2 separate regions of the Homo sapiens genome follow, and region 2 is linked to region 1. The links come from fine-mapping of genetic effects on gene expression. A gene starts in region 1. The other region holds a variant in brackets. All regions are shown on one strand. Distances are between the middles of the regions.

Evidence for each region. PIP is the estimated chance that this variant, and not a neighbour inherited with it, causes the effect.
Region 2: its variant is the best candidate, but not a certain one, in a credible set for the expression of GGT6 in thyroid (GTEx, PIP 0.90).

What each region holds. Positions count from the first base shown.
Region 1 is chr17:4,557,316-4,562,568 of GRCh38, forward strand. GGT6 (gamma-glutamyltransferase 6) reads right to left here and starts at 3,262. Exons shown (of 4, transcript NM_001288702.2): 1 at 3,067-3,262; 2 at 2,243-2,445; 3 at 2,028-2,141; 4 at 1-1,742. The coding sequence starts at 3,206. The coding sequence ends at 700.
Region 2 is chr17:4,486,681-4,492,152 of GRCh38, forward strand. It overlaps SPNS3 (SPNS lysolipid transporter 3, sphingosine-1-phosphate (putative)), which reads left to right. Exons shown (of 12, transcript NM_182538.5): 12 at 1,126-1,524. The coding sequence ends at 1,214. It overlaps SPNS2-AS1 (SPNS2 antisense RNA 1), which reads right to left. Exons shown (of 3, transcript XR_001752763.2): 3 at 3,193-3,311. Among named protein-coding and RNA genes, the nearest start is that of SPNS2-AS1, 9.3 kb to the right of the region's middle. RefSeq lists enhancers at 2,971-4,170, 3,481-3,981. The variant C/G (reference allele first, on the strand shown) is at 2,694.

The sequences.
Region 1 (5,253 bases):
TTTTTTTTTTTTTTTTAGACAGGGTTTCCCTCTTGTTGCCCAGGTGGGGTTGCAATGGTGCGATCTTGGTTCACTGCAACCTCCACCTCTCGGGTTCAAGTGATTCTCCTGCCTCAGCCTCCCAAGTAGCTGGGATTACAGGTGCCCGCCACCATGCCCAGCTAATTTTTTGTATTTTTAGTAGAGACGGGGTTTCGCCATGTTGCCCAAGCTGGTCTCGAACTCCTAGCCTCAGGTGATCCACCTGCCTTGGCCTCCCAAAGTGCTGGGATTACAGGCATGAGCCACCGCACCCAGCTATTTTTTTATTATTATTATTATTATTTTAAAGACAGGTTCTCACTCTGTTGTCCAGGCTGGAGTGCAGTGGTGTGATCCTAGCTCTCTGCAGCCTTGAACTCCTGAGCTCAAGCGAGCTTCCTGCCTCAGCCTCCCAAGCAGCTGGGACAACAGGCATGTGCCACCGCCCCTGGCAAATTTTTAAATTTTTAGTACAGATGAGATCTTGCTTTGTTGTCTAGGCTAGTTTCAAACTCCTGGCCTCGAGGTATCTTCCTGCCTTGACCACCCAAAGTGCTGAGATTACAGGTGTGAGGCACCACACCCTGCGGGTGCACACTCCATTGCTGCTGTGTCTGCTCTGCTCCTGCCCCCATGCTTCAGATAACTCTGCCTTCTGCCAGACCCACCCCCATCCTGTTAGAACCCCTGGAAGGGGCAGCAGGCATGGGGGACACTGGAGACATGGGCGTGCTCTGTGTGGGCTGCCACCTGGAGCAGGGTCCCTTGGCCACAAGTGCTGGGATGCTCTGTTGGTTCTTGCTGACCCTGATGCTGGTGCTGGGCCTGGGTAGGGGGCCTTGCTGCCAGATGCCTGAGTAGGGTGTGAGTCATGGCCCTGGCCACATCAGGGGTCCCTGAAGCCACAAGCCCCAACACATCAGCCTCTGTGTCATCCAGGCTGCCACGGAGGATGAGGGGGCAGGCCCAGGCACTAGTGGTAGACTTGGCCACCAGGTTGCTGAGCAGAACCCCAGTGCTTGGGGACAGGTGTGCAGAGCCAAAGGAGCAGTTGAGCGAGGAGGTGAGAAGGAGCACAGAGCCGCTGCTGTCCACGGCGGCCAGGGCACTGCTCTCGGGGCTCACAGCAGTCTGCAGGAACGGTGGGCAGGGGTCAGGGATGGGCGCCCCGGAGCGCAGGGCTGCCTCCAACAGTGCCAGCAGTTCTGGGCCAGCTGAGGGACTGGGGGTGGTGAACAGGATGCCCTGGGGCACAGGTAGCTGCTCTGCTGGTTCCAAAGTGGGCCTGGGCACAGCCGAGGGCACCTCCACCCCCAGGTCTCCCGCCAGTAGACTCAGTAGAGCATCCCCAGCAAGGTCTGAGGTGGGAGCGAGGGCTGCGCTGCGAAGCACAGCTGCCAGTTGTGGGTTGGTGGCTCGGGCCCCAGCGCCCAGGGGTGTCCCATCAGCATGGCAAAGTAGTGGACAGAGGCCTTCTGTGCCCCGAGCCACCAGAGCCCTTGCCAGGGGTGTGTCCACCAGGAAGCCCTCCTGAGCCAGCGTGGTGGGGCCCACTAGCAGGCGTGGCCAGGGCAGGCGGCCGAAGCGTGCATGCAGCAGGTGCAGGGTGGGCAGAGCCGCGGGCAGCCCCAGGCCGGGGGCCAGGGTCTGTGCTGGGCCTGATGTCAGGGCCGTGGAATTGCCTGAGGAGCTATCGTGGAAGAGGCCCCAAAACATGGCACCTGCAGGAGACAGAGGGGTCCCTCAGCAGCCGCAGGTCAAGGGTCACTGACTTGTTTCAGTCAAGATCCCTTGACTGAGCCTGGGATCAGGAGTTACTGACCAGGCCTGAGGTCAAAGTTCCACAGACCCGGGCTCAAGGGTCATAGCCTGGGGTTGGACTGCTGCCCAAACCCTAAGTCCTGCTCACTTAGCAGTCTTGAGGTCAGTGCTACTGACTCCCTAAGTTCCAGGTCACTGATCAGGCTGTGGGTTGGGGTTGCAGTCTGGGGTCAGGGGTCACTGACCTAGCCCCGTGGCATGAGGATGCACCACTGCCAGGCACAATGCAGCTCCAACTCCAGCATCCACGACGTTGCCCCCGGCAACAAGCAGCTCTCGGCCTAGGTGGGAGCATGTGGCTGCAGCAAGGAAGGCACTGTCATGCAGCAAGGAGGGGGGCTAGGCTGGGCTGGTGACCCCTGACCCTCCCCTCCCCAAGCCGCCCCCAGCACTGACTGACCTGCAGGGCTGATGATGGCACCGTGGTGGTATACGCCAGGGCCGTGGGAGTGTCCGCCGGGTGGAGGGGCCACAGAGCCCAAGCTTCCTGTCGACCTGCCCTGATTCTGGAGCTGCCTCACAGCCAGGGAGCAGCCAACAGCCAGCAGCAGCAGGGCTGCCACTACACGGGCCCAGGTTCCGGGCAGCCCGCCAGCCTTGTTCCTGCAGAGGGGGGGTGTCCTGAGCCACGGCTGGGACAGAGGGATGCCCAAGGACCCCAAGAGACCCCAGGGAATATTTCCCAAAAGGTTTGATTTAGCAAGAGGAGCACAAGTCAGCCAAGGAGAAAGGGCTTCTTGGCAGCGGGTGCATCTTGGGCAGACATGGGGATGGGAAAGCATCTGGGGAAACTGAGCCTAGCTAGGGAGGGAGCCTCTGGAGGGGAGATTGGTGGGGCAGAGTCCACTCAGGTGGGAGGGAGGCCCAGTGGGGTGTGGCAGGCAGGAGAGAAGGGGCTGGGGAGCAGGCCCAGCCAGGCGTAGTCAGGCCCCAACCTGCCCAGCAGGTGCCTCCTGCACCAGGACTTGGGGGCTGGGGACCTTTGACAAAGCAGCAGATGGGACAGAGGCTGGCTTGGTACAAATGTCCCTCCAGATGCACAGACTTTTGATTGGGTCAGGCCAAGTCTCGGGCTACAGCCTGGGTTTTCCCCCAAATTGACCGTACAGTGCCTGGAGCTAAACCCAGCGGGGAGTCGCCTGGTCCCCCTGAGGGGCTCCAGAGAGAGGGACTTGCCAACCTCAAGCCTGGGGAGCCTGGTGCCCAGACCCCTCCCTTACTTACCTGGAAGAGTCCTGGTGCCTCCGGGGGTTTAGAACCAGCGCCTCTGATGTCTCCTCCTCCTCCACTTCCTCCTCCGACTCCAAGCTTGGCTCCCAGGGCAGCAGCTTCTGATAGACCACGGGCTCTTCTGCCCGCTCCATGGCCCCCCAGTGCTCGCCCCAGCCCTCCTGCCTGCCAGCCTTTCCGGCTGTGTCTCAGAGGCCCTGCCCAAGCCTGGCAGGTGGGAGGTGGCAGCGACCTTGGGGAAGGGTGGGGGTGGAATCCAGAACAGGTCTGGGCAGGGCACGGGGCCAAGGAGGCTGCATGTGAGCCTGCCCCATTAGGACACAAGGCCCGAGGAGCTCTCGCGACAGGGTTCCCGGGGTGACTGCCTGTAAGGGGCCACAGCTCAGTGAGGTCGAGAAGGAGTTCAGCCTTAATGCCACAACCTTGATACTCAGGGCACCTGCTGGGCTCCTCCCCTTGGGGGATGTAGCCCATGGATCCCACCCACCTGGGACTCTAGGGACTGTGGACTTGAATTAGAGCTACGGTTTCACGGTGGCTTGGGTCAGAGCTCCCACGTGCTTGAGTCTGCACGTGACTAGGTTCTGGCGTAGGGGTGTCTGGTCTCTGGCCGGGGTCAAGGCTCAGCCTGTGGCTACTCTGGGTCTGGGTTTCTTTGAGGAGCAACTTGGTTCGTAACTCCCTGTGCGTGTTTTGCGACTCTTGTCCAGAAGGTAGCGCCACAGCCTGGAAACCAACATTTCTAAATTCATTCTGGGATTCCCATCAAGGACTTGTTGCAAAACAGTGCTGTTTGTAACAGTCCCAAATTGGAAAGTGCCCAAACATCCATTATCGTTAGAATGAATGATGTAAGTCACAATGGACCACTCTGCAGCAAAGAGAGTGAGTGATCTACAATTATATGCAATAATATACACAGGTCTGACAAGCATAAGGACGAGGGAAAGCAGCCAGGCAGGAGACAGCGCACGCTATATGCTTTCATTTACACAAAGTACACAAACAGGCAACAACAAAAGAGCAACAACAGTCTGCCCTTAGAAGTCAGATAGTGACTGGAGGAGGTACCAGGGGGTTTCTGGAATGCTGGAGATGTCCTTTCTTTCCTTCCTTTCTTTCCTTTCCTTTTTCCTTTACCTTTCTTTTCTTTCTCTTCTTTCTTTCTTGACAGAGTTTTCATTCTTGTTGCCCAGGCTGGAGTGCAATGGTGCAATCTCAGCTCACTGCAACTTCCACCTCCTGGGTTCAAGCAATTCTTCTGCCTCAGCCTCCCGAGTAGCTGGGATTACAGGCACATGCCACCACGCCTGGCTAATTTTTTGTATTTTTAGTAGAGACAGGGTTTCACCATGTTGGCCAGCCTGGTCTTGAACTCTTGACCTCAGGTGATCCGCCCGCCTCAGCCTCCCAAAAGTACTAGGATTACGGGTGTGAGCCACCGCGCCCGGCCGAGATGTTGTTTCTTAATCTGAGTGTTGGTGACACGAGTGCCCTGGGTGTGAAAATGCATTGAGTTGGGCATTGATGACGTGTACTTTTCTATGTGAATATTGTCTTTCAATAAAAAAGTAAAAATGGAAAAGCTCAGGTATTTTCTACATTAAAACAACAACCATAAAAATCATCCTTTGAATCATCCATCATCCCATCTGGCTCTCCAGCTGCTTCCCTTTCTCATGGCCTCTTCACGAGCAAGTACACGGGTTCTTTAAGATTGGTGTGCATCACGATCACCTGAGGAGCTTGTTAAGTCAGATCGCTAGGCTCCTCTCCTAGAAAGTCTGGCTTCAGGTGTAGGGTCTAGAATGTGCTATCCCAATTGCCACAGTCCTGGAACCACACCTTCAGTCTAAAAAAAAAGTGTACACCTGCTGTGTTCACTTCTTTCTCTCCTGTTTCTTCCCTTAGCTGGTTTCTGTCTCTAGTTCCCCAGAGAAACCTTTGGTTTCCTTTTTTTTTTTTCTTGGGCCAATAAAAAACCAACCAACCAACCAAATAGAGCAGCCTAGGGTTGCCACCTTCTAATTTTGCCAATGGTGGGGAGATGGGAATCAAAATGACCATTTTTATGATTTTATGACATTTATGTCATAAAATAATTTGGTTTCACTTTCTGTTAACACAGGGTAAGAAGGTTAGAATCTCAGAATGAAGGTCCATCCTTCCTTCCTGGGAAAA
Region 2 (5,472 bases), 71 kb before region 1:
TTCATCCAGAAATGCTTAGTACACCCCTGCTATGTACCAGGGAAGGTTGCAGATGCTGGGGAGTGAAAGAATGAGGCCAAGTCCAGGCCCCTGTAGAAACTGACACTGTAGTTGGTGAAGACAGACCAGAAACAGAAAAGGTTAAAGATATAGCATGTTCAGGGTGACGAGTGCTATGGAGAGGTATAAAGCAGGAAAGGAAGGAGAAAGGGGCCGGGCGCGGTGGCTCACACCTGTAATCCCAGTACTTGGGGAGGCCAAGGCGGGCGGATTACAAGGTTAGGAGTTCAAGACCAGCCTGGGCAACATGGTGAAGCCCTGTCTCTACTAAAAATATAAAAATTAGCCAGGTGCGGTGGCACACACCTGTAGTCCCAGCTACTCAGGAGGCTGAGGCAGGAGAATCACTTGAACCCGGGAGGCGGAGGCTATAGTGAGCTGAGATCTCGCCACTGCACTCCAGCCTGGGCGACAGCAAGACTGTCTCAAAAAAAAAAAAAAAAAAAAAAAAGGGACAGGTAGGTGCAGGCTGCAAGGATCCCCACTGCACAGGCGAAACTAGAGCAAAGATCTGGAGGAAACGAGGGAGTGAGCCGTTCAGCGACCTGGGGAAAGACGCTTCCGGCAGTGGGGACAATCAATGCAAAGGCCCTGCCATGGGAATGCACCTGATATGTTTGAGGATCAGCAAGGAGGCCAGTGTGGCTGCAGCAGAAGCAAGAGGGACAGTGGTAGGGGTGAGGGATACGGGGCCAGAGCAGGCAGTCCTTGTAAAGACAGTGGCTTTTGCTCAGAGTGAGACGGGAGCTGCTGTGGGGCTTCCAGGAGAGGAGCACCGAGGTGGTCTGATTGATGTTGCCAAAGCATCTCCCTGGCTGCTGTGTTGAGAACAGACTGTAGGAGGGTCAGTGTTGAGGCCGAGAGGCATAGCCGACTCCCCTTCCAGGGGAGAGTGGTGCCTAGACCACGCCAGTGGCATTGAAGGTGATGACAAGGGGTTGGATCTGGAATGTATTCTGCATTTGGGACAGAGAGGATTTCCTGACAGCCCGTGCCCAGGCCCAGGCCTGGTCCCAAAGCACCTTCTGCAACCTTCGGGCAGGCTGAGCATCTTTCCTCCTGCAGGGACCCCAGACAGCAATGATGTGGACAGCAACGACCTGGAGAGACAAGGCCTACTTTCGGGCGCTGGCGCCTCTACAGAGGAGCCCTGAGGTCCCTGCCTACACTCGTCCTGCCTGCAAGCCTCCCGTTGGTCCCCACAGCAGCAGTGCCTCGGTTCCTCTTTGGCTGTCCTCGGGGACTCCGGCTGAGGCACATCTGCCACTTTTGAATTCCCGGCTGGAGAGCTGGCAGGACCCTGTGGCTGGGCTGGGAATGGAGCTGTCAGCACTCTGCGTGGGAGGCCTGGGCCTGTGCCTGCATCCCGCTCAAGGCTGCCCCAGCCTGGGGTCTCCAGCCTGGCTGCTGCTGGGCCCTGAATAAAGAGAGGCCAGTACAAAGCCCATGGATTTTGGGCCTGTAGACAGCCGTGTTATTTATAGCCTCTCGTGCCTCTGCTGGAGGGGAAGTGGGTGAGGACGGGATGGGCAGTCCAGGCCAAGGATGCAGGGCTGTCCTGAAGTGGGGAAGCTGGGGGGCTGGCTCAGCATGGGTCTCTAGGGGTCCGCAGCCTGGACCTCCCACTCTGACCCAGCTTCTCCATTCTGCAAAGTCACAGGCACAGGACACCCTCTACGTGATTCCACTCTTTGTTTTGTTTTGTTTTTGAGATGGAGTTTAGCTCTTGTCCAGGCTGGAGTGCAGTGGCGCAATCTCGGCTCATTGCAACCTCCGCCTCCCAGGTTCAAGAGATTCTTCTGCCTCAGCCTCCTAAGTAGCTGGGATTACAGGCATGTGCCACCACGCCCAACTAATTTTTGTATTTTTAGTAGAGACAGGGTTTCACCATGTTGGCCAGGCTGGTCTTGACCTCCTGACCTTAGGTGATCCGCCAGCCTCGGCCTTCCGAAGTGCTGAGATTATAGGCATGAGCCACCGTGCCCAGCCAACTCCACCCTTTGAACAAAACGTGGGGGCTGAATCTTGCTCTTGGAGATGAGTTTCCACTTGGGTGCTGGGGTGGGGATGTGGCTCCAAGTTCCAGGGAACCACGCAGAGGAACCCACGCCTATACAGACACGGGCGCAGCGGCCCCAGAACCCTGCTGAGGACTTGAGTGGCCGTGCAGGGATCCTCCTGGCCTGCCCAGTTCTGTAGCCCCGGTCTTCCCTGGGTCCACGCTCTGACCCCAGCACAGCGTATGGGGAGGGCTGGCTCTGCGGGGCCCACGCTTGCCACTGGGTTCAGAGCAGCTGGGCTCAGCGGGCCCTGTGGGAGATCGACAGCTTCCAGGCGGGCAGCAGTGGGGAGGCTTGTTCTCATGTTCTTTCCGCCTCCCCTGGTGCCCAGCCAGGCGATCACTTGCTCACTCACCGATGGCCACCTTCGCTGTGCCAGGCTGTGCCTGTCTCCCAGCAGCTGCAGGCAGAGCAACGACCGAGACTCCTGCGCAGCCCCTGATGCTTGCTGCTCTGTCCCTGCCTTCTGTGGGGTGCCCCCCAGCCCTCCCTGTTGGCTGCAACAAGCCCCAGGAGCAGGGCCGCACCACAGCCAGCCCTCCCTGCAGGCTAGCCAGGCCCTTGACCGTGACT[C/G]AATGCTTGGAGCTTATGCAACAGGCAGCCCTTCAAGTTACAAGGTAAAAGATCTGTGAGGATATTTTGTTTTTCCTGAGAAGGAGGCAGCAACTGGGCAGGAGCCAGGATGCCACGGTCCCTCTCAACATTCACTGGCTGTGTGACCTAGGTGGCTCCCTGACTCCCTGGCTGTGTTTGAGAGGTGTGTTGACATGGCTTTCTAGCCTGGGCCTCATGTGATTAGCACAGGCTGGGTCTAGACCCACAGAAGCCCAGCTCCAGGGTCTGAACCTTCCTCCCAACAGCCCCAGGGAGGACCCCTGCAAGGCGAGGCTCCCGGAAAATGAGTGAGGGCCGCCCAAGGGTCAGAACACTCAGCTGGGCACAGCGGCTCACGCCTGTAATCCCAACACTTTGGGAGGCAGAGGCTGATGTATTGCTTGAGGTCAGGAGTTCAAGACCAGCCTGGGCAACATGGTGAAACCCCGTCTCTACCAAAAATACCAAAACATACCTGGGCGTGGTGGCACGCATCTGTGGTCCCAGCTCTGGGAGGCTGAGGTGGGAGGATCGCTTGATCCTGGGGATGGGGGGTGGAGTTCGTCGTGAAGGGAGATGGCACCACTGCACTCCAACCTGAGTGACACAGTGAGACTTTGTCTTAAAAAAAAAAAAAAAAAAGAACACCAGCTGCCACCTCCCCACCCAGAGTCCAGTAGAGGAAGAGCAAGAACCTCGTTCATGCCAACTCTACAAACATGCATTGGTATCGGCGGGTGCCCATCAGGGTGTCCAGCAGTGAATCAGACTCCAGCCCTGCCCTTGGACCTCGCAGCCCACAGCAGGACAGGCAAGTGTGGCACACCTATGGGCAGAGTAAGGGCTTCCGTGCCCCAGAAGCCTTCAAGGAAGTGGCTTTGGAGTTGGTAACAAGGTGGGGGGCAAAGGGAATTCTAGATGCAGGGGATGGACCCACAAAGAGGGGGAGAGTGGGGCAGAAGATTTGCAGTGAGTCATGGAGGGGTGTGGTATGGCCAGAGAGGAGGGTGCGTGTGTCATTGAGCGGGGAGAGGAGGTGAGAGAGGCCATCTGGGATCAGAGGGGCGTCAGATGTAGGTCCAGGAGCTGGGGCTTTAATCCTATAATCCAGGGTAGTTTCTTATGACTCAAGTGCATTCTGATATTTGGGTTGCTGGGCAGGGCAAGGCGGTACTTCCCAAGGCTGAGCCACACGAGGTGCCCAGCTGGGAGTTTATAGGAAGCTATTGTCTAAAGTGGTTTGGGGCAGAGTGGGAGCTCTGGGGCTGGTGGACGCGGCAAGTGACAGAGACCAATATCTCCTCTGCAGCCAACCCAGACTCCCACCTCCTGCCTCTTTGGGGCCAGTCCTGGTGGGTCGAGGTTACGATAACAGCCTGGGGGAACCCAGCCACTCAGGCTGGAGTGGAGTCTGGTAAACAGAACACATCTTCCTCGCCTAAAGGCCCTTGTTGGGTAATCTCAGCCACGAATACTCTGGACTTGTTTGTTGGGAATGTCAAGAGGAGGAAAAATGCTGTTCAGCAGGATGAGTCCTTAAGCCTGACCTGACTCTCTTTATGTGTTAATTGCTCTTTCCAGACATAAGCTGCATTCCAGCTGTCAGGTATTATCCAGGCATGGAGGTATCTCTGTGTGCGTGTGCCTGTACCTGTGTGTGCATCACCATGTTGGCGTGTGGCCACATGGGGGTATGCTAGCTATTGGAACCAATACCAACAGGTATTAGTAAAGCTTTTTTTTTTTTTTTGAGACGGAGTTTTGCTCTTGTTGCCCAGGTTGGAGTGCAATGGTGCAATCTCAGCTCACTGCAACCTCCGCCTCCCGGGTTCAAGCGATTCTCCTTCCTCGGCCTCCCAAGCAGTTGGGATTACAGGCATCCACCACGCCCGGCTAATTTTGTATTTTTAGTAAAGACGGGGTTTCTCCATGTTGGTCAGGCTGGTCTCAAGCTCCCGACCTCAGGGGATCTGCCTGCCTCGGCCTCCCAAAGTGCTGGGATTAAGGCTTGAGCCACCGCACCCAGCCTTAATTTTTCATATTTTTAGTAGAGACAGGGTTTTGCCATGTTGGCCAGGATGGTCTCGAACTCTTGAGCTCAGGCAATCCACCCGCCTCAGCCTCCCAAAGTACTACAATTACAGGTGTGAGCCAATGCGCCTGGCCTAAAAGCTCTTTTTCCACTTTGTCCTGAAGGTTGAGGGGGTTGAACCTGTGTGTCTGGATTCCCACACCCTAACCCTGGCTTGTTGCTCTGCAACATCAAATATTGGTCTGTTTCATTCCCTGAAGTGTTTGACTTTGCTTTGTGCCTGGGTGGGCTTGGGAGGTTGTTTAATCTAATGCAGCCTCTACAGACAAAGCTGGCAGCAGGCAGCTGGAGGTTCCGGGAGCCATGCTTTATCTCAGCACAGACAGGTGTGTGACTGCGTGTGCTCCTGTGTGACCATATCAGTTTGGGTTGTGGGGTTGTATGCAACGGAAACAGACTGACTACCTCTACCAGGCAAAGGATGCATTGAAAGCACATCAGGAACTCATAGAATTGATGAGAAGGTTGGAGATTCAGGAGCCAGGGTTCCTGGGCCATATTATTTTGGGGTCTGTGCCAGAACTCCAGATATTTTATCCCTATTCTTTTGCCACCCTCCTCAAGATTTAAAGCCCTGGGCAAGAGATTCCAGTTGGGTTAGCTTGGATCCTATACCCATGCCTTGGTTTATAGCCGCATTAAGACCAGCAGACCAGTGTGCCGTTA